2 linked regions of the Homo sapiens genome follow. The protein of the gene in region 2 interacts with the protein of the main gene of each other region in a pairwise test. Each region holds a gene or a part of one and is shown on either strand. Other genes may lie near its edges. The genes, in order: KAT14 and CSRP2.

Region 1 (15,868 bases), on a different chromosome or scaffold from region 2:
GGGCTAGGAACTGGGAATACAAAGTCCAAGACAGATAATGGTGCCTGATCTCACAGGTTTGCACTTCCCTGAGGGCTGCATAGAAAACAGGTGATCACAACAACACAGTGGTTCTCCATGCTCACAGTGCATTGGAATCACCCAAGTTGTTCTTGGTTTTCTAAATATGCTTGATTCTAGCCCAGATAAAATGCATCAATTTCTGAAGCAGAGCCTAGGAGTTACATTTCTTAGTCCCTCAGGTGATGCTGATGCTCTGTGACACATAAGGAATGGAATGTGCTGTGTACCACAGGGCAGTGTGAGGGTAAATAAAAGGAGGCCCAACCTATATTAGGGGGAGGCTTAGGATTAGAAATTGGCCAGGTGAAAAGGGGTCTCTTTGTGTATAGGGAGAATGGAGGCTGTGGAGATGCATATTCCAGAAGAAAAAAACTGTGCAAAGCCCTAAGGATAAGAATTGTTTGTGAAGAATAAGTTCACCCTAACTGCAAAGTTGTGTGGGAATCAAAGAAACTACAGTTAGCAGGGTCCTGACCACAAAGGGTAGCTTAAAATTTGTCCTCAACAGGACAAAGGGAAAGCCACTGAGAATTCAGGCAGAACCTGAAATCAATAACAGAGACCGCTCAGAAGCAAAAACCAGCTAACTAGTAAATTCTGCATTTCCTGTGAAAATGTTACTATTAATTTGTTAACAGTGACTAAATTTGAAGTTGAACCCATTTTAAGAAAAACATTTCCACATGCCAGAAAATGACCCTCTTCACAGTTATATATGTATTTCTCTGACTTGGTTACAAATTATATTACACAAAGGCATTCCTCAAGTACCTATATCTTTACTAGTCTCTTGCCTAATGGGAAAATCCTGTTTCGGTATAAACCATATGATGGCTGGCAAGCCATACTCCTCAGGTGCCAGGAAGCTGGCCATTGAAAATCTCAAGATCAGGGCCGAGCACAGTAGCACATGCCTGTAATCCCAGCACTTTGGGAGGCCGAGGCGGATGGATCACCTGAGGTTGGGAGTTTGAGACCAGCCTGACCAACATGGAGAAGAAACCTCATCTCTACTAAAAATACAAAATTGGCCGGGCATGGTGGCGCATGCCTGTAATCCCAGCTACTCGGGAGGCCGAGGCAGGAGAATCACTTGAACCTGGGAGACGGAGGTTGCAGTGAGCCAAGATCATGCCATTGCACTCCAGCCTGGGCAATAAGAGGAAAACTCCGTCTCAAAAAAAAAAAATAAAATAAAAAAAAAAATTAGCCAGGTGTGCTGGCAAACACTATAATCCCAGCTACTTGGGAGGCTGAGGCAGGAGAATCGCTTGAACCCAGGAGCCGAGATCATGCCATTGCACTCTAGCCTGGGCAACAAAAGCAAAACTCCATCTCAAAAAAAAAAAAGAAAGAAAAGAAAATCTCAAGATTGAGGCAATCAGGGAGTGTGTATGAGGTATCTCTTGCCAGCAGAAAAAAAGGAAAATGGAAAAAAAGACTGGTCCTAGAAAAAGGGCAAAAAACACCTTCAATCTGCTAATTCTAACCTCTTTTCAGTATACAATAGCAGGAGTTCTCCACGTAAGTTAAATATTAACAAAGTAATTTTTATAAACTTGAACATGAATTCAACACTGGGACTGGAATTTGGCCCTAAATCTCTGTGACCTTGTTAGAAAAATATGGCTAATTCTTTAAGTAACACAGGATTTCCAATTTTCTCAATTTTATTGAGTTACCACCAAAAGTGTTAATTTAACAATGTGATAGAGGTTGACAGTACGTTTCATTAGTACAAACATGCCTATGTTTTATATAAATTTATAGCTGATCAACTAGAGAATAAATATAATTATCCTTTTATTTAGGTCTCTTTTACATTCACGTTTCTTTCACAGGTTGGAAAAACAAACCTTCACACAGGAATTGACAAATCAAAGGAATTGAGAAGCTCCTTACTGGCTGGTATCCATTTTTGGCACTTGTCACAGAAGTAGGACAGCTGCTCCTCCATCCAAGACACGTCTCCTTCATCACTGTTGAGGGAATCCCCACTCTGGTCGTGCGATAAGTCCACTGATGCCTGATCCTCGGATTCGACGATCAGGAGCGTCTCTCCCTCCACTTCACCTTCCTCCAGTCCTTCTGAGGTCGATGTTCTCGTGGCTTCGTCATCATGCCGACTGATCAGACTACTCAGGTGGATGCTACTATCCATCCCTTCCTTCTCACAAGCTCGGCAGTGCTTCTCAGTAACAACCCTAAGCACTGGACAGTGACCCTAATGGGGCTTCTACCAGGATCACCCAGACAGACTCTTCCAAAAAGTGTCTGCCCACACTCCTTTATTCAGATATAAGGGACCCTGAAAGCAGTAACTTATATGACCCACTGTCCTTTATTTGATCAAGTTTAAAAGGACAGTGACCAAAAAAAAAGATGAAGATACTACTAAGCTACTCTCCATCAACACACACACACAAACTCGTGTTGTCTGTCCAACAGATATTTCACATTCAAGTCATGATTTTTGAGATCCTTTTGCCAATAACATCTTCTCTCTTTCTGCTTCAAGTTGCTCAGTCAAAATAATCTGTTCTCCCAAAAGACGAATGTTTTCTTTTTTCCGAATTTGCCTCTCAATGTCTCTGATAACTCCGTCACGAAGCCTCTAAAAACGTAAGAAACAGATTTCAGTAACATCCCGAACAGGTGGTCCCCATCCTTGTGCCATTCAAATCCAAATAACAGTGTTACCAAAATATACTTAAAACTTTCAGATTCCAAATACCCAGTTACTATTTTAATTTTCTGTACAAATGTAAAATGTAATAAACGATCAAATAAATTTGGTAGTGTGCTAAATGTTATTACTGAAATGATTTCTTATCATATTTTAAGAAATTCCTGAACATTTAGTACAGAAAATTTAATGGGAAATAACAGAAAAAAAAAACTGGCACTATGTTAAATTTTTTTTTATTTATTTTTTGAGACAAGAGTCTCGCTCTGTCGCCCAGGCTGGAGTGCAGTGGCTGCACTCCGCAGCTCACCGCAACCTCCACCTCCTGGGTTCAAGTGATTCTCCGGCCTCAGCCTCCCGAGTAGCTGAGACTACAGGCGTGCATCACCATGCCCAGCTAATTTTTGTATTTTTAGTAGAGACGGGGTTTCACCACGTCAGCCAAGCTGGTCTCGAACTCCTGATCTCAAGTAATCCACCTGCCTCAGCCTCCCAAAGTGCCGGATTACAGGCGTGAGCCACTGCACCCGGCCAATGTTAAATTTTTAAAGTTTAATTGATATGTAATGCTTTAAAAACTTGGCGAGTTACTACAGTAACACTCTAAACTACTCTTCTGTTAGCACTTATCCTAGCTGAACAATAAACACCAACAGAAAAAATGCAGATTACTAAAATCTCAACTTGGCTTCTAGCATGTAAAGTTAACAATGTAAAAATCATGCAGAATTATTAATTAATTATATAACAGAGAAAGAAGAAAAAGAAGGATGCTACTACCAGCGGAAAAAATAAATGCTCATCAATGGTAGTTACCTTAGTAAGCACTAAAAAACCACAGCACTTCAGAACGTGGACCTGGCACCCAAGAAGAGACTTTTAAAAACATCAGTCATTACTAATAACTAACATTTTATAGTTTATTGCTCACAAAATACTCTAAAGGTTTTAGGCCAGGCGTGGTGGCTCACTCCTGTAATCCCAGCACTCCTGTAATCTTAGGCCAAGGCAGGCAGACTGCTTGAGCTCAGAAGTTCTAGACCAGCCTGGGCAACATGGCAAAATCCCATCTCTAGCAAAAATAAAAATAAAAAAAAAAAAAAAAAAAAAAATTGCAGGGAGTGGTGGTGTGTGCCTGTGTTCCCAGCTACTCCGGAGGCTGAGGTGATAGGATCACCTCAGCCTGGGAGGCACAGGCTGCAGTGAGCTAAGATTGTGCCACTTCACTCCCACCTGGGTGACAGAACAAGCCCCATCTCAAAATAAATAAATAGGGTTTTTTTTGTTTTGTTTTATTGGTTTTTTTTTTTTTTTTTTGAGAAGGAGTCTCGTTCTGTCACCCAGGCTGGAGATCTTGGCTCCATGGCACGATCTTAGCTCACTGCAATCTCCACCTTCTGAGTTAAAGCGATTCTTGTGCCTCAGCCTCCCCAGTAGCTGAGATTACAGGCGTGCGCCACCAGGCCTGGCTAATTTTTTTGTATTTTTAGTAGAGACGGGGTTTCACCACGTTGGCCAGGCTGGTCTCGAACTCCTGACCTCAAATGATCTGCCTGCCTCAGCCTCCCAAAGTGCTGGGATTACAGGCATGAGCTACCGTGCCTGGCCAATAAATGGTTTTTAATAGTGGCTATATAGAGTAGAATTAATGGGAGTGGGGCCCAGGGCCTGCGTATGTTTGTGGGGTTTTTTCCAAATTATTTTACCTATTTTTAAAAACTCACCTAATATAATACCTACTTGCTGGACCTCCTCCAGGCCTACAGCTTCATTATGAGGGATTTGAAGGAGTCCCGGGATTGATATAACTCAACTGAAACACAACTGTCTTGAACCATGCACCCTTGGCAAGATCACCACTGAGACAAAAACGGAGGTGCTTATTCCACTCCCCCAACTGCAGGTCTTCCTGTCCTGTGCTTCTTACACCATGACACACCGATACCCACCCTCCCAAGCCCACACCATTCACCAGAATCATTCCTTCCACACCTGCCTCCCAGATCCTACCCTTCCTTCTCAGAGATGTCACGTGTGCTTATGATCTGGCTCTCCATCCCATCATTTGCTATCTTCCTCTAGGTTTCAAGGTCTATGCTGATTGCCTCACACATCCTTCCTGTGACCCTCACTGAACTACCTTTCTAACAACTTTCCTTACTAATCACTAAAGACCTCTTTATTCTTCCAACCCTAACACCTAGAACTCTGGCTCCTCATGTAGCACTGCTTAATTTTTGCTAGGTTACTGTGAGGATTACAGATGATATACATAAAGTGCTTAATACACTGCCTGGTATGTGGTAGACGGTCAGGAATCAATATTCATTATTTAATTTCTTGCTTCCTTGAACCTTCCGACACATCCACTGTGCTAATCATTTGTCCTAGTCTTTCCCACTGCTATTAATACAATGTAAGCCCCTAATGAAGAACCGGACATAAAAGGAAAAAAAATAAACACACACACACACACACACACACACACACACACACACACACGTTATTTTGGTTCTTCAGCTCTAACTTCCAAATAACCACTTTTCCACTCTGTAACACAATGGTGCTTAGTCCTGTGTTAAAATTCTCTGGGTTACTTTTAAAACATTGTTGAACCAGGTCCCCATCCCCAGGAGATTCTGGTTTAAATGGTCTGGGGTGGGGACCAAGCCTTAGTCACATTGTAAAAACTTTCCGGGAACATTTGATGTTCAGTTAGGGTCCAAAGCCAAGCTCTAATCCATCCCTACCCAAACCCTTCAAACATCACTTCACTGACGTCAGATCATCTGTCATACTAAATTTTACTCCATCTCAAGTTTTCCCAGGATCAACATCTTTTACTTTTCCTTGTAAGAGGCGGAAGTCTTCTGCCTCTATTCCAAAAGCCAGCCCCTTAGGAGCACATTTTAATCCCAAATCTCTGATCTCTCCTGTGCCCTTTCATTGTTAAGTCATCTCAACCCCTCGTCAAAATTCTTGTACCATCACATGCTTCCTCTCTTCTAATTTCCACAGTCTGTGAACACCAAGAACAAAGACCTCATCCACTTCATCTCTGTATATCAAGCACATAGCACAGTCCAAAGGTCTGGGTAGGCAAATCAAGAAAAGACTGTTTACTCTTGATTCATCCAGTCCATTATTTTCACCCTTGGTGAACTAGGTTCAACCCCAATCACTGCCAAGTTGTTTTCTGAAAATTCACCAATGACCCTGTTCTCAGCAAGGTCGTGAATCACTGATAGACTCTGGAAGAGTGGAGTTTCCTTATCTTTGTATTCCCAAGGTGCTTAGTGAGGTAGCTTCCACACAGTAATCACCCATTAAAGGTCTGTCAACTTGAATAAGAAAGAAAATATGAACTGAGAGGACAGAATAGTCACTGCTGATCAGCAGGTCACGGATATTTCCTGAAATAAAAGTACCAAAAAAAAAAATCTGGAGACTGTTATCTCTATCGTTCCCAGATTCTAGTTTCCATAGCAAACTGTTCATTTAAACGAGAAGTGCAAACATCTCACCAAATTATCTTGGTCAAAGGCATGGAGAGTGAGTACGGGGAAGGGGGGCTCCCTTACCATGGGATAAAATCAATAGCACGTAAAACACATTAGGCTTTAACCCCAACCTTGGGCCAGGAGGGAGGCTGGTAGCTTGCAGAATGCACCCCAAGAAACTCCTTCCCCACCTTCTATTTTCTAGCGGCCCAAGTGAGATGTGGAAAGGTCCGCACCCTGCGGGCCGGCTGTGACTTGAAAACAGAGCCACTGGGCACCCCAAAAGCTTGCGTGCCGTGCCTGTGCGGAGCAAGGCCCCTTCAGCGCGGAGCTCCAAAGGCGCTAAGCCGGGCAGCCGGGTCGTCCTGAATCTGCGGGCTGCACACGCCCGCCGGGAGCTGCAGCGCCCGGAGCCCAGCAGAGCGGCCGCCGGCCGCAGCCGCAAACGCGTGGGGTGCAGGGCCGCGCCACCGCGGGGGAAAGACACGAAGAGGAGCTGAGGAACCGAGCGGGCAGAGACCACGAGAGGCCCCAGGTCGACGCCGCGCGCGCGGGCCCGGAAGAGACGGTCACGTGACACCGACCTGCTGGTCCCACTGCTGCTTCACATGTACGCCGGCCACTGTGGCCGCCGTCAGCAGCACCGAGAGGCCCAGCACCACCTTCGAGCTCCTAGACATCCCCACGCTGGCGGCCGCGGCCTCTCTCTCCCGCCCGCCCGAGGCGCAGAGGCCGCCGCAGAGTGCGCACCGCCGCCTGTACTGCCCAGGCTCGACCCCTCGAGCGCAGAGCCCCAGCCGTCGCGTGCGCCGCTCGCCGCTGCCAGGCGTGAGCAATCGAGAGCCGAGCATAGAGCGGCGCCCAGGCTCTACGAACTCTTGGCTTCACTAGGGGCCTCCTGCACACCCCGCAGGCGACAGCGTTAGACCACCCCCGATTCAAATTCTAGGAGTCCCGGCCCAAACTGGCCCCGGCACCTTACCAGGGTGGAGGGTGGGGGTTCCATGCCCCTCAGTCAGTTCAGTACCAACCTCACCCCGGGCGGGGTCTGGATACCGTGCTGACCCCTCTCCCACAGACGTCCCTTCTGAGCCCCTGACTGATCCAGAAGCTTCGCCCAATACCGGCTTCGCCTAAACGCAGCCCCCTCATTGCTCCTTTGGCGGGGCAGGCGCCACCAGGAGACCGCCTCGTTAGGCAGCTTCAGAGGCGCGGGGTTCCCATCCGTGGAGTTTTTGCCTGAGGACCCATTATTAAACGCTGTAGTCGCGGTCACCTGGTTTCACCTTGACGCTGTGGGGCGACTGGTCAGGCTCGGATTATTATTATTATTATTATTATAATTTTGATACAGAGTCTCTGTCTATCGCCCAGGCTGGAGTGCAGTGGCGCGATCTCGGCTCACTGCAACCTTACCGGATTCAAGCGATTCTCCTGCCTCAGCCTCCCGAGAGGATTACAGGCGTGAGCCACCGCGCCTGGCCCCATGTAATCTTTGTGATCACTTTTACACCCAAGTTTCCGCGCCAGTAATACAAGGGAAATAAATGATATAAAGAAGTCTTGCGTTGGGAATAGTTAAGCAATTGTGCAAGACGCATTTTCACTTCTTCCTCGGGTAAAAAAGGCAAGGCCTCCCAGAAACTTTTAAGTATCTGATAGAGCAACCAGTGAAAACGTGTTCATCATTCAATCATTCTTTCCCACTAGAATTCACAGAGAACGAGCTTCTTCCGGTGGACACGGCTATAGGCAGTATTGATTAAGCCTCACCAGGGAGTTTTACAACATTCATTACTGTTCATAGTGCTTTGCTATTCCAGTCTCTTATGTGAGCGTAAATGGCATAAGGGGACTATTGCTCTTAAAGGTATCTTTAAAGATACCTTTTCCAAATGTCATTTTGTCCACAGCATTTTTTGCAGCCTAGAGAGAATGTACCACTGAATTGGAAAATGGAGTTCTTGCTGTAATGAACTTTGAGAAGAAATTCAGTTCAGGGTGTATTTGCATATTTCTCTTTAAAAATTATATTAGACTTCTTTTTATTCGTGGTATATCCTAGATATTTTCCCCTGTAAATCAGTGAGCCTTCAACAGAGCTGTATGTCCTTAGAGTGTACATCAGGGAATTAGATCAATCGCCTTTCATTTTATTGTGACTAATTTTTCAACTTGTTTTCTTGAAATGTACTCTTTTCTTTATTTTCAGGATACTAGAAGCAAAAAAAAAAGTATTCTACTTTTAAGAAATCATTTATTATTAACTGTGTCAAATAAAAAAGTGGGTTGGGGGACTGAGGGAGGTCTTGCAAAAAAAAAAAAGTATGTTTATCTGTTTAAATATTTATAAGCCTAAGCAGTATATTTTCCGTGATTATTGTCGCATAAATTACTGATTTGTGAGAGTGACTGCATATCATCAAACTGAGAAGCAACTATTTTTTTCTTTTTCTTTTCTTTTCTTCTTTTTAATTGAGACAGGGTCTCACTCCGTCGCCCAGGCTGGAGTGCTGTGGGGTGATCTCACTGCAACCTTTGCCTCCCAGATTCAAGCGATTCTTGTATCTCAGCCTCTGGAGTAGTTGGGGTTACAGGCCTGAGCCACCAGGCTGCACTAATTTTTGTATTTTTAGTAGAGATGGGGTTTCACCATGTTGGCTAGGCTGATCTAGAACTCTAGTACTGGGTGCTGGTACTGGGTGTTTGTGAAAATTGGTCCAGTGGCACACCAAGGCTGTGTGGTCACACATACATGCATGATACACTTCTATACAAAATCTTACATAACTATACGAACAGAAAAAAAATGGCTCTTTTTTGTTTCTTTTATTGTCTTTATTTCCTTTTGATTTTTTATTGTGTGTTTTTTTCTTTTTTTTCCCATTGGTTCATAGCCGATGGCTTTACATTTTATCATCACTTCTTGTATCAAATAGCTTTTTGGCTGGGAACGGTGGTTCATGCCTGTATTCCAGGCACTTTGGGAGGCCAAGGCAGGTGGATCACTTGAGGTCAGGAGTTCGAGAACAGCCTGGCCAATATGGTGAAACCCCGTCTCTACTGAAAATACAAAAATTCGCCAAATGTGGCAGCGCATGCCTGTAATCCCAGCTACTTGGGAGGCTGAGGCAGGAGAATTGCTTGAACCCGAGAGGCAGAGGTTGCAGTGAGCCACTGCACTCCAGCCTCGGTGACAGAGTGAGACTTCAACTCAAAAAAAAAAAAAAAAAAGTTTTTTCTCCATGGTAACTATCAAAAATTAAAGAGATGATCATTTAAAAAGATTTTGATCAGCCAGGCGTGGTGGCTCACACCTTTAATCCTAGCACTTTGGGAGGCCAAGGAGGGTGGATCACTTGAGGTCAGGGATTCGAGACCAGCCTGGCCAACATGATGAAACCCCGTCTCTACTAAAAATACAAAAATTAGCCAGGTGTGGTGGTGGGTGCCTGTAATCCCAGCTACTTGGGAGACTGAGGCAAGAGAATCACTTGAGCCCGGGAGGTGGAGGTTGCAGTGAGCCGAGATCAAACCACTGCACTCCAGCCTGGGTGACAGAGTGAGACTCCATCTCAAAAAAAAAAAAAAAAAAAAAAAATCTTGATCAAGAACTATGTGCAGGAGCAATGATCAGGAACTATTTTTAACACAAAACTTGATATTTAAAAGAGACTCCAAGAAGAATGTTATCAGGAAATTTTACCCAAAGTTGATATTTAAATCTACCCCAAGATTTGCTTTTATTTTTCTTCTCATAATTATATGTCATTTATTTTTTTGTTTTTCTTTTTCTTTTTTATAAGAGTACCATATAAAGGAAATGTAAATAATTATTATCCATGAAGCTCCTTTTAGAATTATCCAAGCTCACGCAAGTTGATCCCAGTGAGTTGTACAGATATCCTTATTTTTTATGTTTACCAAGGTGGGACGAAGCTTAGGAAGCATGGCTGATTTAATACAATTTGCTTGTAAGGCCAGAACATCTGAACCTTGTGTATCTGGCTATATTCTAGTGTCTCGGCATCCTAAGATCACATCAGTTCCTGCCCCTCTCAGCTTTGGATTGACTTAGGTGTGCCCAGAATGGCCACTGCTTTCCTGGAGAGGACAGTGGGTGCCTTGCCCTGCCATTGGCTGGCCTTCAGAGTGAACTTACCTCCAAAGACAAAAATAGGAAGCTGACCACCTTAAAAACCGCTCAGTGGCTCCCCATGCCTACAGGATAAAGTCCCATACTCTTTAGAACAGCATACTACCCTGTCCTTCCCTTCAGAATCCTCTAAGCAAGAGGCAGCATCAAAAAAGAAGTACAGTTGGAAGTCAGGGCTTGGAGAAGAATCAACAAATGAAAACTAAGGGGAGGGAATGCAGTCATTTTCCTGTGTTTGAACAACATGGTCACACAATCTTTGTTCCACCTTCACTCACACAAGGGTGGGGACTTGAAAAAAATGCCTTCCTCACTGAGTGTGTAATTTGGCTTATGTTATTTGGGCTTGAATCATGGCCAGGTCCTGGCAGCTATCCTGGGAGAGCTGGGTTTCGGGTCACTTCTGTCTTAAAGAATAGTAAATCACTAGTACCCTAGCAGGAGGTATCAGTAGGAGGCACGGGTTTAAACTGGGCTTGATGGTGGGCATGAATGCAATAGGTCAAGGCAGAGGCTTCAGGCAATGATCAGAAGCTTGTCATCATTGGGGCTGAGAGAGAAGGAGGAGGTGGGAAGGAGGAGGTTTGTTTGGGAAGAAGGTGGAGGGTGTCAGCTGAACTGGCACCAGTGACTGATAAATTTATCAGTCTCAGCACTAAATGATTACAGAAACATCACACCACATGGCACCGCATAAAGCACCATTATGACTATTTTAAATGCAAGCAAGAAGGCTTGCCTTGTGTATGGCCCTGTAGTGGGCTCTATAGGCAGACAAGGCCACGAAATCCCACCTTCTTCAGGCTGAGGCTCTGAAGTCAGCACATAAGGAAAAAGTCAAAAACAGTTAAAACTACCCTTGAAAACATTTTAGGAAGGTGACATGTTGAAGAAAATAGATATTTTCTCAGGAACTCCAAAACAGCCAGTTTTTCTTCTGGTACTGGAATTAATCACCATGAATTCAATGCAGTATCTATATAAGTAATCTGAAATTCTGCACAGGTTTGTCTCTTCTCTCCCATTTAGTAACTGATTCAATCATTTGTTTCTATCAGTGTGGACTGGTGGGTATTTATTTTATACTTTGGGTTATAATCCAATATTACTTTATTTTGTTGCTCAGATGGCTCCCGCTTTGGCCGTTGGGAGATCTTTCAGCTCCTCTGCTTCTCTGACGGACCCTCATCAATGTGTGTTTTTCTTGTTTAGCACTTGTCTATTTTCTGACACTGCACAATATTCTGAGCTAATCTTGTATATTTCCTGCCCAAGTCTCAGAATCTGCCATTTCTCCAAGAATCCAAGGTTCTTTTTATTGTAGAATAATATTGGAATCCAAGATATAGGTCCTGGCATGCTTATTGCTACTGGGGCTTTGTTTCTTTTGGGCCCTCTCAGCTGACAAAGCACATAAATATATGTGTGTATACTTATCTGTGTATGTTACATATCTGCAAATATTTCTATATGTAATCACCTGAATCTATATTGACTAAAATGTGAGATATTGCTGATGTCTGCAACTCTAGTCCATTACCAGATGGATTATTCTAACCTCCTTTTTTTATTGGTAAATTCCTACTCCATCAGTGAGAATTCAGGCTCCCATTTTCCACCATCCACTTGCGCAATTGTTTGATTCCAGTGTACATGTATAGCAGTTTCAGAATTGTTTACCTCATAATTATATGTCATTTTTTTTTTGTGGGAAACAACTTTACCTACTAGAGTACCATGCTTTTTTGCAGTTCCTATTGCTTTTGGCTTTATAGACCTCATTTACTCCAAAGTTACCAAATCAGCACCTTTGCCCTCCACCCCTTCAGTGATATCGTTTCATATGTTTGCAATACAGTTAGATGCTCTTGTCATGGTTTGCACTTTTTCCTAGGATCTTCCTGAGAGTATTTTTTTAACTCCTTTCTTTCTTTCCTTTCTTTCCTTTCCTTCCTTCTTTTCTTTTCTTTCTTTTTTGAGACAGGATCTCACTCATCCAGGCTGGAGTGCAGTGGCACGATCTTGGCTCACTGCAACTTCTGCCTCCTGGATTCAAGTGATTATCCCACCTCAACCTCCCGAGTAGCTGGAAGTGCAGGTGCATGCCACCAAGCCCGGCTAATTTTTGTATTTTTAGCAGATAGAGGGTTTCACCATGTTGGCCAGGCTGGTCTTGAACTCCTGACCTCAAGTGATCCACCTGCCTCAGCCTCCCAAAGTGCATGGATTACATGTGCGAACCACCGTGCCCGGCCTTTTTCACTCCTTTCCATAAACATGATGGAATCAGCATATATCCTCTCTTCATACCGCCCAACTTAGGGATTAGATTGTTTTTAAGCTTTACCTTTATGCCTTTAAATATATTTAGACCTCTGTGCTTGATTTACCATCTTTAAATAATATATTCTGGTCACCAGCTCTAAACATTCAGGAAACCAGCTGTATTAGTTTGTTTTGACATTGCTATAAAGAACTACCTGAGCCTGGGTAGTTTATAAAGAAAAGAGGTTTAACTGACTTACAGTTCCACAGGCTGTACAGGAAGCATGCTTGGGGAGGCCTCAGGAAACTTACAATCATGGCAGGAGGTGAAGGAGAAGCAAGTACATCTTCACGTGGCTGGCAGCAGAGGGAGAGAGAGAGAGAGAAAGGGGAGGTGTTACACACTTTCAAACAACCAGATCTTGTGAGAACTCTACTATGAGGCAGCACTTGGAGGATGGTGCTAAACCATTAGAAACCACCCCCATGATCAAATTACCCCTCATGAGGCTCCACCTCCAACAATGGGGACTACAATTCAACATGATATTTGGGTGGGGACACAGAGCCAAACTATATCACCAGCATACTTGACCTATTTCCTATCTTCTGCTCTTTCTCATTCAACTTTTGTTGGTTATATCACTCCTTCACTGTCAGAGTTTATAACATATATATTTTGCTCTTTTTTTTTTTTTCTGAGACATGGTCTCACTCTGTCACCCAGGCTGGAGTGCAGTGGCTCAATCTCAACTTACTGCAACCTCCATCTCCCAGATTCAAGTGATTCTCCTGCCTCAGCCTCCCAAGTAGCTGGGATTACAGGCTTGTCACCATGCCCAGCTAATTTTTGTATTTTTAGTAGAGATGGGCTTTCTCCATTTTGGCCAGGCTGGTCTCGAACTCCTGACCTCATGTGATCCACCTGCCTCAGCCTCCCAAAGTGCTGGGATTACAGGCGTGAGCCACCACGCCTGGCCTACATTTTGTTCTTTAACCATAATTGCCATGCTTGTTTTCATCTTAGTTGCATCTTTAAATGGATTTGATGGTCATCACCAGTCCTTTCTGTGTCTTTTCTCCATCTACCCTCTATTAGAATCTTTTAAAAAGTGTTGTAGAAACTATATTTCCTGAATTCTTGCACATTAAAAAAACATGTTTGTGTTGTCTTTGTCCCTGAAGTACAGTTCAGCTGAGTAAAAATTTCTTGGGTCACACTTTCTTTGCATGAAGACTATATAGACTTTACCCATCTGTCCTCAAATATCAAATATAGCTGTGGCAACTTGGAGGCCGGTCTAATTTTCTCCTTTTAGTTAATTACTTTGCATAGTTGCTTAAAGCATACTTTCTTTATCTTTGAAGTCCAATAACTTTACAAGAATATATTTTTGAGTCTATTTTCCTTGGACACGAGGTACCCATTCAATTTTTAGATTCATACTTTTAACTCTGGAAAATTTTTTAAATTACATCTGTAAATACATTTTCTGTTCTATTCAAATTTCTCCTTCAGGGACATGAATTATGTGCCTATTGGATCTCCTGTGCCTGCCTGTCACATTTATTACTTTCTGTCTAATCCTTTTTAAACTCTGGTCATTTTAATTTCATTTGCCTTCCTATCTCTTTTCTAATCGATGGGTCTCTCTTACTTCAATGGTATCTAGTCTACTCTGGAAAAGTACACTTGGAAACAATTTTTTAAATGCTTTTTTGAAATTCTACTTATTTACCCAATGCTTTTAACTCATAGTTCATCTTTTTAAAGTTGTGTAAAATACACATAGCATAAAATTTACTAGGTAAACCACGTTTAAGCGTACAACTCAGGGGCATTAAGTACACCTGCACTGTTGTGCAACCAGCATCACTATTCATCTCCATAACTTTTTCATCTATCCAAACAGAAACTGTGTCCATTAAAACGTAACTCCCTATTTCCCCTCCCTCTAGCCCCTGGTAAGCGCTATTCTACTTTCTGCCTCTGTGAATTTGCCTATGTTAGATGCCTCGTATAAGTGGAATTATGCAATATTTGTCCTTTTGTGTGTGACTTATTTCACTTAGCAATAATGCCTTTGAGGTTCATTTATGTTGTAGCACATGTCAGAACTTCCTTCCTCTTTAAGGCTTAATAATATTCCATTGTATGTATATACAACATTTTGTTCATCCATTCATCTGCTGATGGACATTTGAGATGTTTCTACCTTTTGGCAATTGTGAATAATGCTGCTGTGAATGTTGGTGTGCCAGATTCTGATCCTTGCTTTCAATTTTTTCAGATATACAGACAATTCCAGAGTTATGATGGCTTGACTTATGATTTTTCCACTTTACAATGGTGCGGAAGTGATAGACATTCAGTATGCTTCTCAACTTATGATGGGGTTGTGTCCAGATAAATCCATCATAAGTTGAAAATACCAAAAGTCAAAAACTCTGGCCAGGCATGGTGGCTCATGCCTATAATTCTAACACTTTGGGAGGCTGAGGCAGGCAGATCACCTGAGGTCAGGAGTTCGAGACCAGCCTGGCCAACATGGTGAAACCCCGTCTCTATTAAAAATACAAAAAGTAGCCAGGCATGATGGAGCGTGCCTGTAATCCCAGCTACCCGGGAGGCTGAGGTAGGAGAATCCCTGGAACCTGGGAGGTGGAGGTTGCAGTGAGCTGAGATCGCACCACTGCACTTCAGCCTGGGTGACTCCATCTCAGAAAGACAAAACAAATTCCGGGCGCAGTGGCTCATGCCTGCAATCCCAGAACTTTGGGAGCCAGAGGCGGGCAGATCACTTGAGGTCAGGGGTTTGAGACCAGCCTGGCCAACATGGTGAAGCCCTGTCTCTATTAAAAATACAAAAATTAGCCGGGCATGGTGGCACACAGTTGTAATTCCAGCTACTTAGGAGCCTGAGGCAGGAGAATCGCTTGAACCCGGGAGGTGGAGGTTACAGTGAGCCCAGATAACACCACTGCACTCCAGCCTGGGCGACAGAGTGAGACTCTGTCTCAAAAGAAAAAAAAAGTCAAAAACTCATTTTCAATATATGATATTGTCAACTTTTTTTCCCCTATGGGTTCATTGGGATGTAAACCCGGGAGTGGAATTGCTAGATCATAAGGAAATTCCATATCTAACTTTTTAAGGAACTGCCCTCCTGTTTTCCACAGAGGGTGTATCATTTTACA
Region 2 (15,333 bases):
TCCCTGTGTCTCTGTACCGGGGAGCTTCTTCCTTCTGTCTTCTCCCTTCCTTCTTGCTCATTAAACTCTCCGCTCCTTAAAACCACTCCACGTGTGTCCGTGTTGTTTTATCTAAACCGGCGGCAGGATCAAGAACCCTTGTGTTCCTGCACTCATCAGAGCCGTATGATAATCAAGAGCTGACTACCTGGGCCATTCTCATACCATTAGTGCCGCATTTACTGTCTTACTTTAGAATCAGAATGACTTGAATCTATGAAATTCAAATCTATATGTTACCATTTAAAGTTTAAGTTATCTGCCCTGAAACTAAAAGTTTGGATTGAATTAGTCTATATTCTATATTTGCCCAGATTCTAAATGCCTCCAGAAGCTTTGACATTTTATTACTACATGTAGGGCCTTGTTATTACACTAGAACCTGACTATAATCCAATTTCCCCTAAAGGAGAATTTATTATAAAATACAGTCTCATCTTGAGCCACATCCAGGGGGAGTCACTTGTTAAAGAATGTAAGTTAGTAGCACTGTCCCGTTACGATGACTTTTTAGCAAGACCAGGATTTGACAGCTGTAGTTAATTGGAAATTAAGCTTTCAGTTGATGCCTGTTCTACAAATTTTTTCTTCTGTTACCCCAACTACCCACTTAGTCTACTTCTCTTACGGAAGTGAATACCACTGAACCAAGGATGAACTCTTCATGTCTTAGTGATCAGCTCCGTACTCCATTTGGCTCCTCCTACTGAAGCCAAATCCTCAACCTGGCCTTTAAGTCAGTTCAGCATAAGGGCAAAGTAAGAACACGCGTTTGGAGTCCACGAAGTGTCATTTCTCTCATCCGTAAACTTAGGGCAACAGTACCTTTTTTAGAGAGTTAAGAACAGTACCATCTTTATAGAGTTATAGATGAGGTAACGCTTGCATAGTGGGGACTCAAATGATAGTATCAATATTTAGCAATGTTCTAACCTTTGTTATCAATACTCATCTTGCCCTACCATCTCACATATCTATTCCTTCCTTATCCCCCAAACCCTCCCCATCAAGGCAACTGCCTTACCTCCGTTCCATCCAGCTAACTTCATTTCTGTATCTCAAGTAATTTTTCTAGGGTAGAGGCAGCTTATAAGCACTGCATAATGCTTTACTGTTTATGAAGCTCTCATATAAATGTATTAATTCAACAGTATTTCATAAGCCAGGTACTGGGTTAGGGGGCTGAGGATAAATGGGTCATAAGGAAAGGCCCGTTTTGCACAGAGTTCTACTGAGGTGGTAAAAACATGTGGACAAACAATAGCAATATAATAAATGACACAGAGGCATGCAAAAAGGGCTTTTGAAGGTCTGCACCATTTACTTTCACAGGCATGACAAAACAGTTTCATCTTGCAGATCCACTGAGAGTGGATTCCTGGAACTACGTTGAGAAAGATTCTGAAATTCAGTCCAGGTTCTACAATCAAGAGAACTGTGATTAATTATTTTTGCCATGGAAATACCGCAGTACACATGCCACCTTTTAGACATGCCAGATATAAAAGAAACAGTGCGGAGCTTAGAATCAGATAGACACAAGCTGGTTGTCAAAGCTAGTTATCAGCTATGTGATCCTGGCCAAATTTCCTTAACCTCTGAGCCTTAACTTCCTCAGAGGTAACTTGGAAATGGATGAGAACTATCTTATAGGCGGTTGTAAAGATTTAATGAGATAAAGTTTGTAAAGTACCTGGCAAAGAGCCTGTACTCCACAAATGGGCGGGCTTCCTTTTCCTTTAGGAGCACTCGGGGCCTGAATATACCAAGTTCAGTCCGTTAGGTCAAGGGTTCCAACCCCCAGGCCACAGACCGATGGCTGTGTTTTGTGTTCAGGCTACTTGCTACTGGTCTGTGGCCTGCTAGGAACCAGGCTGCACAGCAGGAGGTGAGTGGAGGGTAAGCGAGCATTACCACCTGAGCTCTGCTTCCTGTCAGATCGGCAGAGGCATTAGATTCTCATAGGAGCGGGAACGCTATTGTGAATTGTGTAGGTGAGGGATCTAGGTGCCCACTCGTTACGAGAATCTAATGCCTGGTGATCTGAGATGGAACAGTTTCATCCCAAAATTTCATGCCAAAACCATCCACCCACCATCCATGAAAAAACTGTCTTCCACAAAACTGGTCCCTGGTGCCAAAAAGGATGGGGACTGATGAGTTGGGTGACTTGCTGAGGTCACAGATCTCCAAAGAAACAAATCAGGCTCATGTTTTGATTCCAGAACCACAAGCTTTCCTCAAAACTCCCATATCTGACAGGCACAGAACATTAAGGGTTGAGACTATTCAAATGACCTGAGAATTCTCAATCCTTGAGTTACCAAATTACACACACAAATTACACACCTTCCTCTCCATCCAACTAGCGGTCAGTAAGTGGTCTCTGTGCACCACTCTCACACCCAAACTGCTACTTTCAACCAAAAAGCTTTTTATTACCCCTCTCTGCTAACCTAAATCTAACCCCACTGAAGGAAAACTCTCTTCTAATCTAGTGAACACTCCTGTGTGTACCTCAGCCTCACCATTCTTACTACTTCTGTATTCTGCTACCACTCGTGTCTTCAACTTAGAGTGCAGCAAAATTCGACACAGATTTGAATCACTATCTGCCAAATCCCATATTGTAATTAAAATGCAACTATGCTATAAGCTCAGTAACCCTGATCCCCAACATCTGCCATAGCAATCCACAATCTGTGCAAAACTACAAGTTATTTAATTATTCAAACAATTTAATATTTGCACGATTTTTTCATGGAATCAGACCTAGATATATATGCTGAGACTCTTGTTTATTTGCCAAATGATCACAGGTTGTTCATTTGATCTGCTAGTTTTCTCATTTTAAAAATGGGGACAATGCTTATTTATACAATAAGGCAGTTTTTAGATTAAACAATATATGCAAAACACCTAGAATAGTGTCTGCCACATGACAGGTAATAATTACAAATACTTCTATAAAGCTTAATATATGCTTTACTTATGTTTATATTACCTCATTTAATCCTCATAACAACTAAAGTAAGCACTACCACTATTCTCATTTTATGAGTGGGGAAACTGAGGCATAGAGCTATTAAATGACTCATAACTGTGAAACCAAAATAAAATTATCAATTCAACTTAAAAATGAATACCAATAAAATTCCAATTCAAAATTATTTCACTGATGTTTTGCTAAACTAAACCCCTGGTAGCAATACAGATGTAGTACCGACCTCCATGGCTATGGCATAGGTTCTTCTTAAGCTGAGTAGTTCCTGCACTGCCGTGTGCTGGATGAGGATTCAATTCTCTCTGCTTATTTTCTTTTGGAAGTACTGTGAAACCACCATGAAGCCCTCTTTCCTATAGTGAACTGGGAAGTAATTTGGCCCTAATGTATTACATGGTGTCTGTTCTTATTAGTCGAAGACAATAGTATTGTTGGCACAATAAGATTGTAAACAAAAAAACAAGGAACCTGATATCCTTTCCAGATCATTCACCATGTACTTCTATTAGTTCTTCCTCTGTGACTTACAACAATAAAATTTTTAACAATCAGAAATTGTGCCTGTGGTAAAAAGGAATTTGAAAAGGAAAAAATATAAAAAAAAGAAATTGTGCCCAGCTTCTCCACTATCCAGACTGAGAAATATTCCCTTAATTCAGGATTCTTAACCCAAAGGCCACAATTCCTTTTAATTCTGGGGGTTGGGGAACTTGGTACCACATACTTTATGTTACGTCATTTTGAGAAGGGGTCTGGAGGCCTCACAGGAGTGCCATGATATAAAAAGTCAGAAACCCCACCTAGGTAATCAAAGATCCAGAGGTGTCTGGGGATCCCCACCCAACAGAACCCAAGGGATGGCATGCTGGCAGTCAGGGTAAGGTGCCTTGAGGAAACCTGTGAACATCTGCACAGAGAAGAAAGCTGGCCTCCAGGCAAGGTCTAGGAAACGCTCTTCAGGTGTGAGCCAGCTCTCTCCTGAAACAGACTTTCACTGATAGCCTTTTCCCACATATATTCAACCAAGTGCACAACTTTGTCTAATTACAAGGAACTACTCCCAGGCTGGGCTGGGCTTTGTACAAGTATCAACAGGCCTTATGACAACCCTGCAAGGCATGTGCCACTACACCCATTTTACATGATGAAGTATTGAGGCCAAAGAGTAAAGTTAATTTGCCCAAGGGCATCAAACCAATGGGTACTGGAGTTGAGGTGTGAATTTGGTCCTGCCTGGCTTCGTTCCTCCCCCTTTCAGCCATGCCTCCTCTCCCATAGGGGGCTCCCTTTTGGGGTTCATTTGATTCACCTCACTTTTGACAAAGAAGAAAACCTAGAGACCCAGATCACTATAGCAATTTAGTGTCAGAGTTGCCTCTGGACTCAGGCTTCTAAAACTCCTCATTTATTGCTGTCCTCTACTCTACACCAACATTCTTGCTGTTTTAGGATAAAATTCAATCTCCCCCAAATCCAAGTGATTTTGCAATTTCATCAGGACAGGCCTCCAGCAAGTACTGCTTTCAGCACAGTACTTAGCCTATACCAGTATCAATCAATATTTGTTAAATACATTCGGAGAAATGCATTAAAAATTTATGATACGAACTTTAGATCAAATCTGCAAACAAATACCTATTGTGTGAGTCAAATTATATTTTTGTTCCCTATAATCACAACCTTATTCGCTCCTTCTTTCAGTCAATTGTCCAAGGTACCCAAGCAAGCACTGTGAGTTTCAAAGACTCATGTGATGCAGGTCTGGTCTCAAAGGTAACACAGAACCAAAAGAGCAAAGAAAACTACAATGCAGAGGAGAAAGGACCCAGAGAAATACTGACAAAGTATCAGTGACAATGGACGAGAGCGATGACCCCAGGAGTACTGGGGGAGACCACTTAGTACTTCACAACATTCTTTGTAGCTTGGCATGCAGTTCTGAAACTATGTTAGATTCTCCCTTTCAAAATCTATCACCCAATTCTTTCTTGAAAAACGTGAGTCAAAGTACAGCCAACTTTGTGGCTGTCCTATTTGAATTCTTGGCATTTTATGAGGAGAGTTTTAAAACAGGTTAATTGGAAAAGTCAAGAACTAAATACGACGATTTTCGCTGCCCGGGTTAAAAAATTACTAACTGCCCCCGCCCCACCCCCCCACCCCCCAAAAAAAATTCTGTACCGAAAAGCATTTATAAAGGGAAAATGTGCTTGGTTTGCAGACTGCAAATAAAACAGGTTAAACATTTTGGGTAGCCATTTAAGTAAAAATCGTTTAACAAATGTCCTGGCTTAGAAGGGGGAAAGGGATCCGCCGGTTTAGAAAGCCCGCCCCCGCCCCCAGGGGGTGCCTACGTGGAGCTCCTGAATCTGGCTCTGGAGAACCCAGAATGTGATTCGCAGGACCTGTCGCATAATTTCACAACCAAGCATTCTTGCATTCTTCTTTGTACCTGAATCGTAGAAAGTTCTGGAAAAAGCTAGGAGTAAGTGATTGACATTCCCTGCTGTTCCTTCAACATAGAGGGGTTCGGTGCTGGGTGGGCAGACACCACCAAACAATGGGGATGCCAGGAGCCCGGTACGGCGGCAGGAGCAGTACCCTGGGCTCGGGGGGATGTAGAAGCCCCATTCCACCCCTAGGGGACAGAACCCAGTAAGGTCGCCCTCGGTGCTCACCACACTCCGGGCAGAGGGGGCCCTGAGACTCCGACCCCCACCCCAGAGAGAGCCTGCCGCTGGACGAGGGGACCGACGGCTGCTAAGAGGCGGATTAGCAGAAACGCGAAACTCACAACCCGCCTCTCTCCCAGAGAAACCAGTATGGAGAAATTAAAGGTCATATAAGATTATTTACCTGCCCCGCGGGCCTGGGATCCCAGGGCATGGCCTGGACGGCCTCGGGGACAAGGGCAGGTGTGTTTGGGGGATAAGAGAGAGAAAATCTGGGGCGCAGGGATGAGAAGGCTGGCAGGGGCACAAATGCGGACCGGGATGGGGATGTCGGAGGAGACCGGGGCGCGCCGGCCGGGCGACAGCACGACCCCGGGAGGCGGTGGAAACCCCCTGCAACTCCCGCCCCGGGGTTGGCGGCGCCGCGGAACCGCCCCACCGCCCCTACTCACTTGAGTCGGAGGCGGGAGCACGTACCGCAGGCGGAGCTAGCGAGGCTGGGCTGGAGGGAGGGTCCAGGGAGTCCGAGATCCCAGGCGAAGCGCGCGCCGGTGCCTTTTAAAGAGCGCTCGGTGGGCGCGGCCTGTGTCCGCCCCGCCCTCCTCCCAGCCCCGCCCGCCGGATTCCCGGAGCCGCTTGCCGGGCTGGGGCGTGTAGCGGGCGGGCTGCCCTCTGCCCGCTCCGGGCTAGCCACCAGGAGACAAAAGGCAGGAGGCCCGCCTCTTCCTGCAGCTTCCCGCCCGCCCGGCATCTTCCCACGTCCCGGGACCGCTCCCTCCCAAAGGGACCCGGCAGTTCCAAAAGCCACTGGGACTTGGAGAGGGACTTCCTTCCCCTCCAGGGAGGCCCGGCGGCGGGACGGTCCCGCTGGAAAGTGGCCCCCGCCGCCCTGCGTCGGACCTGTCCACCGCGAGCGCCGATCCCCCTCTTCGCGGAGACAGTCATGGGCCGGGAGGCTCCAGCAGTAGAAAGTCAGCCAAACGGGGCTTTCCGCCACCTCCCCCTTGCCTTGTCCTTGTCAGTAAACTCAACGTGATTAACTTCCCTAGTTAACGCATATTCTCTCGTCCGATTTCCAGCTTCTGGGAATCCACAACTTCTTATTCTTAAAGAGCAAAATTCATCTAGACTAAATAAATGACGTTACGAAAACGCCCCATTCCCAAAGTGTTTCGCTCTTCCCCTCCACCAGGGCACAGCACGCGATGCTGAGGGGGAAGAAACCTAAACCCAGGCAGAAACCCCGGGCGCCACAGGCCCTGTATTTATATGTGTTGATGTCAGAAAAGCACAAGGATACCGTGACATCCGAAGGGACCTAATGCCTAAGCTACAGGATGATTTATTGTTTTAGATGAAAAGGAAAATAAACAATGCAATCTCTATCTGGTTCATATTCTAGGCCTCCTCATGACCTCTCCTGCCAGAAGCAATGATCCCGGAGAACTGATACTTGCGGAGTGGGGAGTTCAAAAAAGTCAGTGACCAAAACCCCCTCATGCCATAAATGCTATTGCCTCCTCTGGTCCAGAGTTTCTCATCCTCCACACCATTGACATCTTGGGCTGGATAATTCTTTATTGTAGGGGGCTGTCCTGTGCATTGTAGGAGGCCTCCACCCACTAGATGCCAGTTGCAACCTGCCCCCGACGTTGTGACAATCAAAAAGTCTCTGGACATTGCCAAATGCCCTCTTGGGGAGAGGGCAGGGAGCACATATCCGCATGACAACGTACAGAACCGACTTATAATATTATTATTGTTTTATTTTATATGCTGGGGCCAATCCAGGATAAACTCATTATAGCTGCCTTGTTCTCTGTCCACCAAGTACTGTCCAAAAACACATAGTGGTGATTGACATCTCCTGATACTGTGGCAGGAGTCTGGAAAGCATTCTTGCCTGCTGTGAGCTTTTCTAAATATGGGCAATCCTTATTTCAGTGATATCAGCTAGTGTAAGTGACTTGACTCACGGGCCAACAGGAAAATTCAGTCCCTCAGATTCTACATTCGCTTTAGCTCAGCTGCTTACAATGTTTATTTTTTCTTGTATAAGTTTGCCTAGTGCTTCTACTGAATGAAACTGTATCAGTGAGTCTCACTGCAGCAAACCACTGCCCTTTCTCTCCTACCCTGAGTTCTTCTCAATGCCTCTTTGTGGAAGGGGCCTCCCAAACCTGAGCTGTTTGCTTTCCGTCAAGCTCATGTTGTCCCTAAATTCCATAGCCATGTCTTATCATTTGAAATTGGGCTTGTTGGCCGGGCGTGGTGGCACATGTCTGTAATCCCAGCTACTTGGAGGCTGAGGCAGGAGAATCACTTGAACCTGAGAGGTGGAGGTTGCAGTGAGTGGAGATCACGTCAATGCACTCCAGCCTGAGTGACAGAGGGAGACTCCGTCTCAAAAAAACAAAACAAAACAAAAAAGAAATTGGGCTTGTTTCTGACCTAAAAGTGTTTCTGCTGTCTGTCCCTGTATGTGTTTGTCTCCGTGTACTTCACACTGAGTCTGCAGATGATATACAACGTGTGATTTTGAACAAATCTGTATTTGTATTTATCAACATTTAAAAAATATTTATTTTCTTTAAACATCTATTTAAACTGTTGACTCTTTTAGTTATGAACATGAAGAAATTATTTAAGAGTTTTTAGACAGAGTGGTGCAAAAGAAAGAGTATGGGCTTTGGAATCAAACACACATGATTTCAACATACAGCTCTGCCACCTATCAGTTTTGTAAGCTTGGGCTAAGTACTTGACCTCTATGCATCTGTTTCTTTATCTGTAAAAAGATAATTCTACACATCTTGTAGTGTTGTTATGAGGATTAAATTGGGTGATGTATGTAAAATGCCAAACATAGCACCTGGCACATGGTAAATACTGAATAATTGATGGTTGTTATGTTAAGCAAAGATATCTTGATGTCCTTTTTGCCTCTCAAGAAAGAAATAAAATTGTGCTTTGCTAAGTACTCATGTTGCCTTCTTGAGGGCTTGCTATTAAGAAGGTATGGAGTGTTTTCCAAAACAATTAAGAGTCTTCAGTAGGAAGCATCTGCGCGCCTGCAGAAGGATAGTGGGAAAAATGTGTCCTCAAGGAGAAGGATAAACCCTTAAGTCCACATGGTCCTAGTCTGTTTGACCCCTTCAACCTTGTAATAGGCAGAATCAAAGGTTAAATGTGTCCAGCAGGCTATTTCTTTTTCCCACTCAAAATGTGTATTATACTTGTAACAACTCTATTCTCTGGAATTCATCAACCAATTTCAAATCAAAGCCCTCTCTCAAGGTCACTGTCCTAAGGCAAGTTGAACCAAGGTTGTTGCCTTTTGTCATGACCTTGTGCTTCAAACGTAGATTTTAAAAATATTTTTATTATTTTTATTTCATGCCCCTTTTTCTTAACAAAACTCTGAATCAGATGAATGTGAATTTAAACACAAAGCCTCTTTATTTTAGGGCAAGGCTTTCTTCCCAGAAGGCAAGAAAGCTATAGTGAAGAGGAATGTCTTATTATAATGATTTTAGTATGAAAAAAAGGGAAACAATTTGCACTTTGCTAACCTACACATTTAATAACACAAAAAGAAGCAGTTTTTCTACCTTATTTCTTAGCTAAGATTTAGCAGCAGTTGTGGGAATTAAAAATTACTCATACTTAACCCTAATACTCTGTGATTTATTATCTGACAGAGAAAAGAATAATGTAAGTGATATATGCTTAAATGTTGGAAGGTAGATTAGAGTATCTTATTCTTGATATTTGTCATAGTTGCTTTTTTTAACCTGCTATAAACTCCTACTTTCTTATACTTGCTTCATTTCCTAACTCTCTTTCTCCAGTAGGCATTATTTTCATTCAGTGCTATTATCTTCTATTATGATGTTATTTATTTCTTCTTTTCAACCAGAGCTTTCTATCTTTTTGAGCTCTGCTTCTGCTTTCATATTATAGCAGAGTTTTTCTAGTTCTACTAGTAAGAAAGACACCATTAACTTCCCAGACAGCATATTCTATCCATCTTATCTTAACCCCTTAATTCCTTTATCTCACTTTTCTCCCTCTTTTTCAGCTGGTGACATCACCTTCTTCTCCTTCATTCACATTCACAGCCAGTCACCAACATTTCCTCAACCTTCCTCCACTTTGCCTCGAAGCTTCCATGTTTTCTCCTATGTTTGTACTTGCTGTCCCTGATCTTGGAGGAGCAAATGGTTCTCCCACTCCCTACCAACAGTGTCCACTCTGCCTAGGCTTTTGATCCATTTCTTTGGCATTTTTTAGTTATACAGTCATGTGCCACTTAGTGATGGGAACAGGTTCTAAGGAATGCATCATGAGACAATTTTACCATTATGCCAACATTGTAGAGTATACTTACACAAACCTACACCATATGGCCTAAGGTATAGCCTATTGCTCATGGGCTACAAACCTGTACAGCATGTGACTGTACAGAACACCACAGGCAATGGCAACACAATAGTATTTGTGTATCTAAACATATCTAAATATAGAAAAGGTACAGCAAAAACACAGTATTGTAGTGTTACAGGACCACCCTCATATTTGTGATCTGTTGTTGATTGAAAATCTTCATGTGGCACGTGATTGTACTCCCTTGCTGTTCAATTTCAGGCTCTATTGCTTTCTTTCCTTTCAAATGACAAAAATTCTGCTCACCCCGTATTTTTAAAAGCTGACATAAATATCCCTGAGTCGTGTAGTAGGTATTTGTGATTGCCTCTGTAGCATCCATTCCTCTCTGTGTGGTTTCAGGCATGTGAGTTCATGGTCCTGTTTCAGGGTGGAGCACTGGATCCAGTCAAGGCATTTGAGGCCCCGGCTTGGGGATGGTAAGCACGTGACCTAAGCCCATCCAATTAGAGTGAATCTCAGAACTCTGCTGGGGTGCGGAGTCAGAGCCAAGCTAGCCTATTCTGGAATGTGCTATGTGCATGGAGGAGGCCTTAGAGTGGTTGCAGTCATTTTTGCTAGGAACCTGGCCACGGATGACTTGACACAGACAAGAGGACAGAGAAAACAGAGCTCTGAACAAGTATTCACCAAGTTTACCTACCTGCAGGGCTTTTTCATTATGGGAGCCAATGAGTCCCCATTGCTGTTTAATCCATTTTGAGATGGATTTTCTGTTACTTGCAGTTAGGACTCCCAACAGATTGTGATGGCTTAAAATCATGTCCATGGATTCTTTGTTACTCCCCCCTTCAACAGGTAGAATTTAATTCATGCCCTTACCCTTGGGTGCGGGCTAGATTTAGTGCCTTGCTTCTAGAAAATAGAATGAAGTGCATGATTTTGAGACTAAGTCAAAAAACGCTTTGTGACAACTTTTTCCTCATTCTTCCCCCACCCTTTTCTTTTATCCATCCTCCCCCATCTCCAACATCCTGCCAACATGTGTGTGTGTGTGTGTGTGTGTTTCATCACTGCTATGGGGAAAGCCAGCTGCCATGTCAGGAGGACACTCAAGCAGTTAAGAACAGTGGCCTGTGGCCAACAGTCCCAGAGGAGCTAAAGCCTTCTGCCAACAAAAATATGAGTGAGCTTGGAAGGAGATATTACAGTACAGTACTGTCAAGCTTTGAAATGACTCCAGCCCTGGCTGACACTTTGACTGCAACCTCGTTAGAGATACTGAGACTCTCACTGTGGTCATTGGAGAGTTCCTAATTGCCAAACCCCCAACTGCTATTTTTCAGTCCTTACCCTACTTGACCTCTTAGTAATTGGACAACATTGAGTAAACATATGATTGTGTATACATGCACAGAATGAAATATTTTAGAAGGATGACACTTCTGAAATTTCTCACAAATGTTAACTTCTGTCTCTAGCTACTGTTCTGATGAGAAATGGAAAGAAATTTTGAAAGCTACCACCACTAGAAAGCTTAGTTTCTCCCCTAAAAAACTGTAATGTGAGCAACAGAGGATGCGTTAAACAATGTTTTTTATTATCTCACTTGTGATAAGATATACCATTTTATAAATATATATATATGTGTTTACTTTCTAACTTTTACATAGATTCCAAAATCCTTGCTAAAGATTACATAAAAATAAATGTAGGCTGGGCACAGTGGCTCACGCCTGTAATCCTGGCACTTTGGGAGGCCGAGGCAGGTGGATCACATAAGGTCAGGAGTTTGAGAGCAGCCTGGCCAACATGGTGAAACCCCATCTCTATTAAAAATACAAAAATTAGCCGGGCCTGGTGGTGCGCACCTGTAGTCCCAGCTATTCAAAAGGCTGAGGCAGGAGAATTGCTTGAATCTGAGAGGCAGAGGTTGTGCTGAGCCGAGATCCTGCCACTGCACTCCAGCCTAGGCAACAGAGCAAGACTCTGTCTCAAAATAAATAAATAAACGAATGAATGAATGAATGAATGTATACTCATCCATCCATTTATTCAGGAATTAAAAATTAAGTGTATATTTTATCTTAAATGTAGTTAATGACGTTTCCGTATATATATCTTGATCATTGAGCATCTCCAGAGAAAACCTCATAAAAATTTCCACTTAAAACAGTGTGCGTGTGTGTGTCTGTGTATTTCTCTGGGAAATGATGTCAAGAACGAAATTCTGGAAACAATACATAATGCTATAATTGATTGGCAGTTAATCATTTATGGCATATGCCTGCCAGGATTTTTGTGTAATCCTCACATACGGGATTAAAAATCATTCATAAAATAAAACTTTTCTTGTAAAAGAAAATACAAACTGTCACGTCTGTAGCTCTCACCTCATGAGAACAGTGTTAAGCTATGGGAAAAAGGTTAATGCCTTTAAAAAAAAAAAGCTTGTATAAATCCTGTATTTACATGTTTTTAAGGAGTGCTGGCTTAGATTTTACTTTAAACAGTTTTTACTTCTGCTGTTTCAAAAAGATTGTGGGAACCTAATTCCCATACCTAATTCTTAAATGATGTTATACGTTTAAAGACTCAAGCTATTACTTTGGGAGGCTGAGGCGGGCGGGTCACATGAGGCCAAAAGTTCTAGACCAGCCTGGCCAGCATGGCAAAACCTTGTCTCCACTAAAAACACAAAAATTAGCCAGGTGTGGTGGTGCACGCCCGTAGTCCCAGCTACATAGTCCCAGCTACTCAGGAGGCTGATGCATGAGAATTGTTTGAACCTGGAAGGCAGAGGTTGCAGTGAGCCAAGATTAAGCTGCTGCATTCCAGCCTGGGCAATGGAGTGAGACTCTGTCTCAAAAAACAAACAAACAAACAAACAAAGACTCAAGCTGCTGATTTATTTGTTCCTGTGTTCACTTCAATTGTAAGAGTTCAGAGTGCTACTGCAGAACCAAACTCCACTGACCTGTTAGTGGCTGGGTATGAGCTCAAATACCGTGTGTGTGGTGTGTGTGTGTATGTGTGCACACATATATAAGTACACACACGTACATATATGTGTATGTACAAACATACACACACACAGACTTGCAAAATGATCTGTATCCTCTGTGAAGGGTATTGGGTTATCGTGGAGTGATCATCCATCCAAATTCAGCTGAAAAACTATAAATGAGAAAGGGTCAAAGTACACGCCATTGGCTGTTCTTCAAGCCAACATGTGTTTCAACCAAATAGCAATGACTATTGACTGAATGTTCCTTGCATGTTAAACATGTAGGAATATTGTTTTCTTGTCCTTGTAAGGTGATTATCTTTCTTTCCATTTGACATGTGAGGGAAGTGAAACTCATGGAAATTGAATAACTTGTCCAAGGCCACATAGCTAGTAAGTGGCAGAACTGGGATTCAAATCCAGTCTGGATCCAAACCTCACACTCTTTCCACTGCAGAACGTGGCCTTTTAGCAATGATCCTTTCCTGTTATACTAGAAGAGTGAAGAAAGTACCTTTGCTTAAAGACACTAAAAGACTGATAGCTCCTTGGGAGCAAGTCTTTCAGCAAACCGAACATAAATCTTTCCAATCTGAGGAGACCTCCCCAGCATAGCTGACTAAGATGAAGTCTAAGACAAGTAAGAGTACCATGCAGAATCCGAGCTGGTCTTGAACCAGGGGAGGAGGGCTGGGGTTGGGGCCTCTGCTGAGAGAAGGTAGGGGTGTGGCATGAGGTGGATGCCAAGAAGACACAAACACATTTAAAGGGCATCACATTTTGATGATCCTCTTGGGGCTAAAGCCTGCCAGATGATGGATGAGCATGTTACATTATGCTAACACAAAAATACCAAACTCTAACTTAGAGAACAGCCAGGCTGCCATTTTGTCCCACCTCCTTTTTGGGACATAACGTTGGTATAAATTCCTTATACAGAGTGGGAATGGGGAGATGTACATGTGGTCTTGCCTCGGATGAGTCATTTAACTTCTTTAAGCTTAATTTTCCTAAGTCTGGCTGATCACTCAGGTCCCATTCAGCTCTAGGATTCTATGATTCCACTAGTAGCAATTGTATGTCACATATTTTTTGACAAGGAAAGTGGTCACATGTATCCATCAGGGTTCTTAGTGGAAGATAACAGAAAGTACAAGAAGAGCAAGGAGAAAAATGGTGCTATAGAGTCAGGATCAGTGCCTGACGCCAGAGTGGCACAGCTGATGCCTATACTTGCCTCTTAACATCTACTATGCTAGGGCCTGAGAGTAGACCTTCTACTTCAGCTACTAGATCCGCCATCCTTGACCATGCCAGCCCCTTGTGCTGCTTATTTGCCTTCCAAATCTGGCTCAGGATATCTTCCATTAGGGCTTGGTGGAAATTATGTTATGTGTGGAACTCAAGCTGCAAGAGAGTCTTAGAAATGTTTACCTGTCTAGCCTCTGGAGTACAGGAAGCCTTGTTCAAAGAGTCAGTGGGTGTTAAGTGACCCTGTGTGTAGTGTCTGCAACATCATGTTACATTGCTGTGCAAACAGGGAGGGATCAGGTCAGGCGCGGTGGCTCACACCTGTAATCCCAGCACTTTGGGAGGCCGAGGTGGGCAGATCACCTGAGGTCAGGAGTTTGAGACCAGCCTGGCCAACATGGTGAAACCCCATCTCTACTAAAAACACAAAAATAACCCGGGCATGATGGCACACACCTGCAATCCCAGCTGCCTGGGAGGCTGAGGCTGGAGAATCGCTTGAACCCAGGAGGCGGAGGTTGCAGTGAGCTGAGATCGTGCCACTGTACTGCAGCCTAGGCGACAGAGCGAGACTCAGTATCAAAAAAGGATCATATGTATACCATGAGCCTATTTTTCTATCTGTAAAAATATACTCTATAAAAAAGTCTGAAAAGTGTACACTAAAATTTTAGGAGTGCTTTGATCCTCCTAAATTGTTGTGTTTTTATCTTCTTTTTGGTTCTCTGTATTGACCAATGTTTCTGCCATGAATGAGTATTACTTGTATAATTTCTTAAGAGTGATGCTTATTATTTATTGGCCTATGATTTTACCTGACATAAAGGTGGTATCCCTGCCCTTTTGTGTCTTGAAGATGTCTGTCTTCAAAGTACAGGCCACAGAATTAGACCTTGAAAATAACTTTAAAGGGCAAGTAAACCATATTCCAATTCAGATCACGTTATCAAACTTCTAGACATTTGAATCAGTTT

What was found.
Region 1: the proteins of CSRP2 (region 2) and KAT14 interact in a two-hybrid assay, tested with the Homo sapiens proteins (one study listed by BioGRID).

What each region holds. Positions count from the first base shown.
Region 1 is NC_000020.11:18,129,017-18,144,884, reverse strand, and holds the start of KAT14 (cysteine-rich protein 2-binding protein), read right to left. Parts: upstream 7,023-15,868; 5' UTR 6,930-7,022; coding exon of another isoform or gene 6,834-6,929; intron 6,815-6,833; exon of another isoform or gene 6,331-6,814; intron 2,678-6,330; coding exon of another isoform or gene 2,528-2,677; 5' UTR 2,225-2,527; coding exon 1,966-2,224; exon of another isoform or gene 1,716-1,965; intron 1-1,715. Other genes in the region: protein PET117 homolog, mitochondrial precursor, read right to left, coding at 2,528-2,677, 6,834-6,929. UniProt on the Homo sapiens protein: Component of the ATAC complex, a complex with histone acetyltransferase activity on histones H3 and H4. May function as a scaffold for the ATAC complex to promote ATAC complex stability. Has also weak histone acetyltransferase activity toward histone H4.
Region 2 is NC_000012.12:76,872,771-76,888,103, forward strand, and holds the start of CSRP2 (cysteine and glycine-rich protein 2), read right to left. Parts: upstream 6,250-15,333; 5' UTR 6,169-6,249; coding exon of another isoform or gene 6,168-6,168; exon of another isoform or gene 5,900-6,167; intron 5,881-5,899; exon of another isoform or gene 5,589-5,880; intron 5,513-5,588; exon of another isoform or gene 5,398-5,512; intron 1-5,397.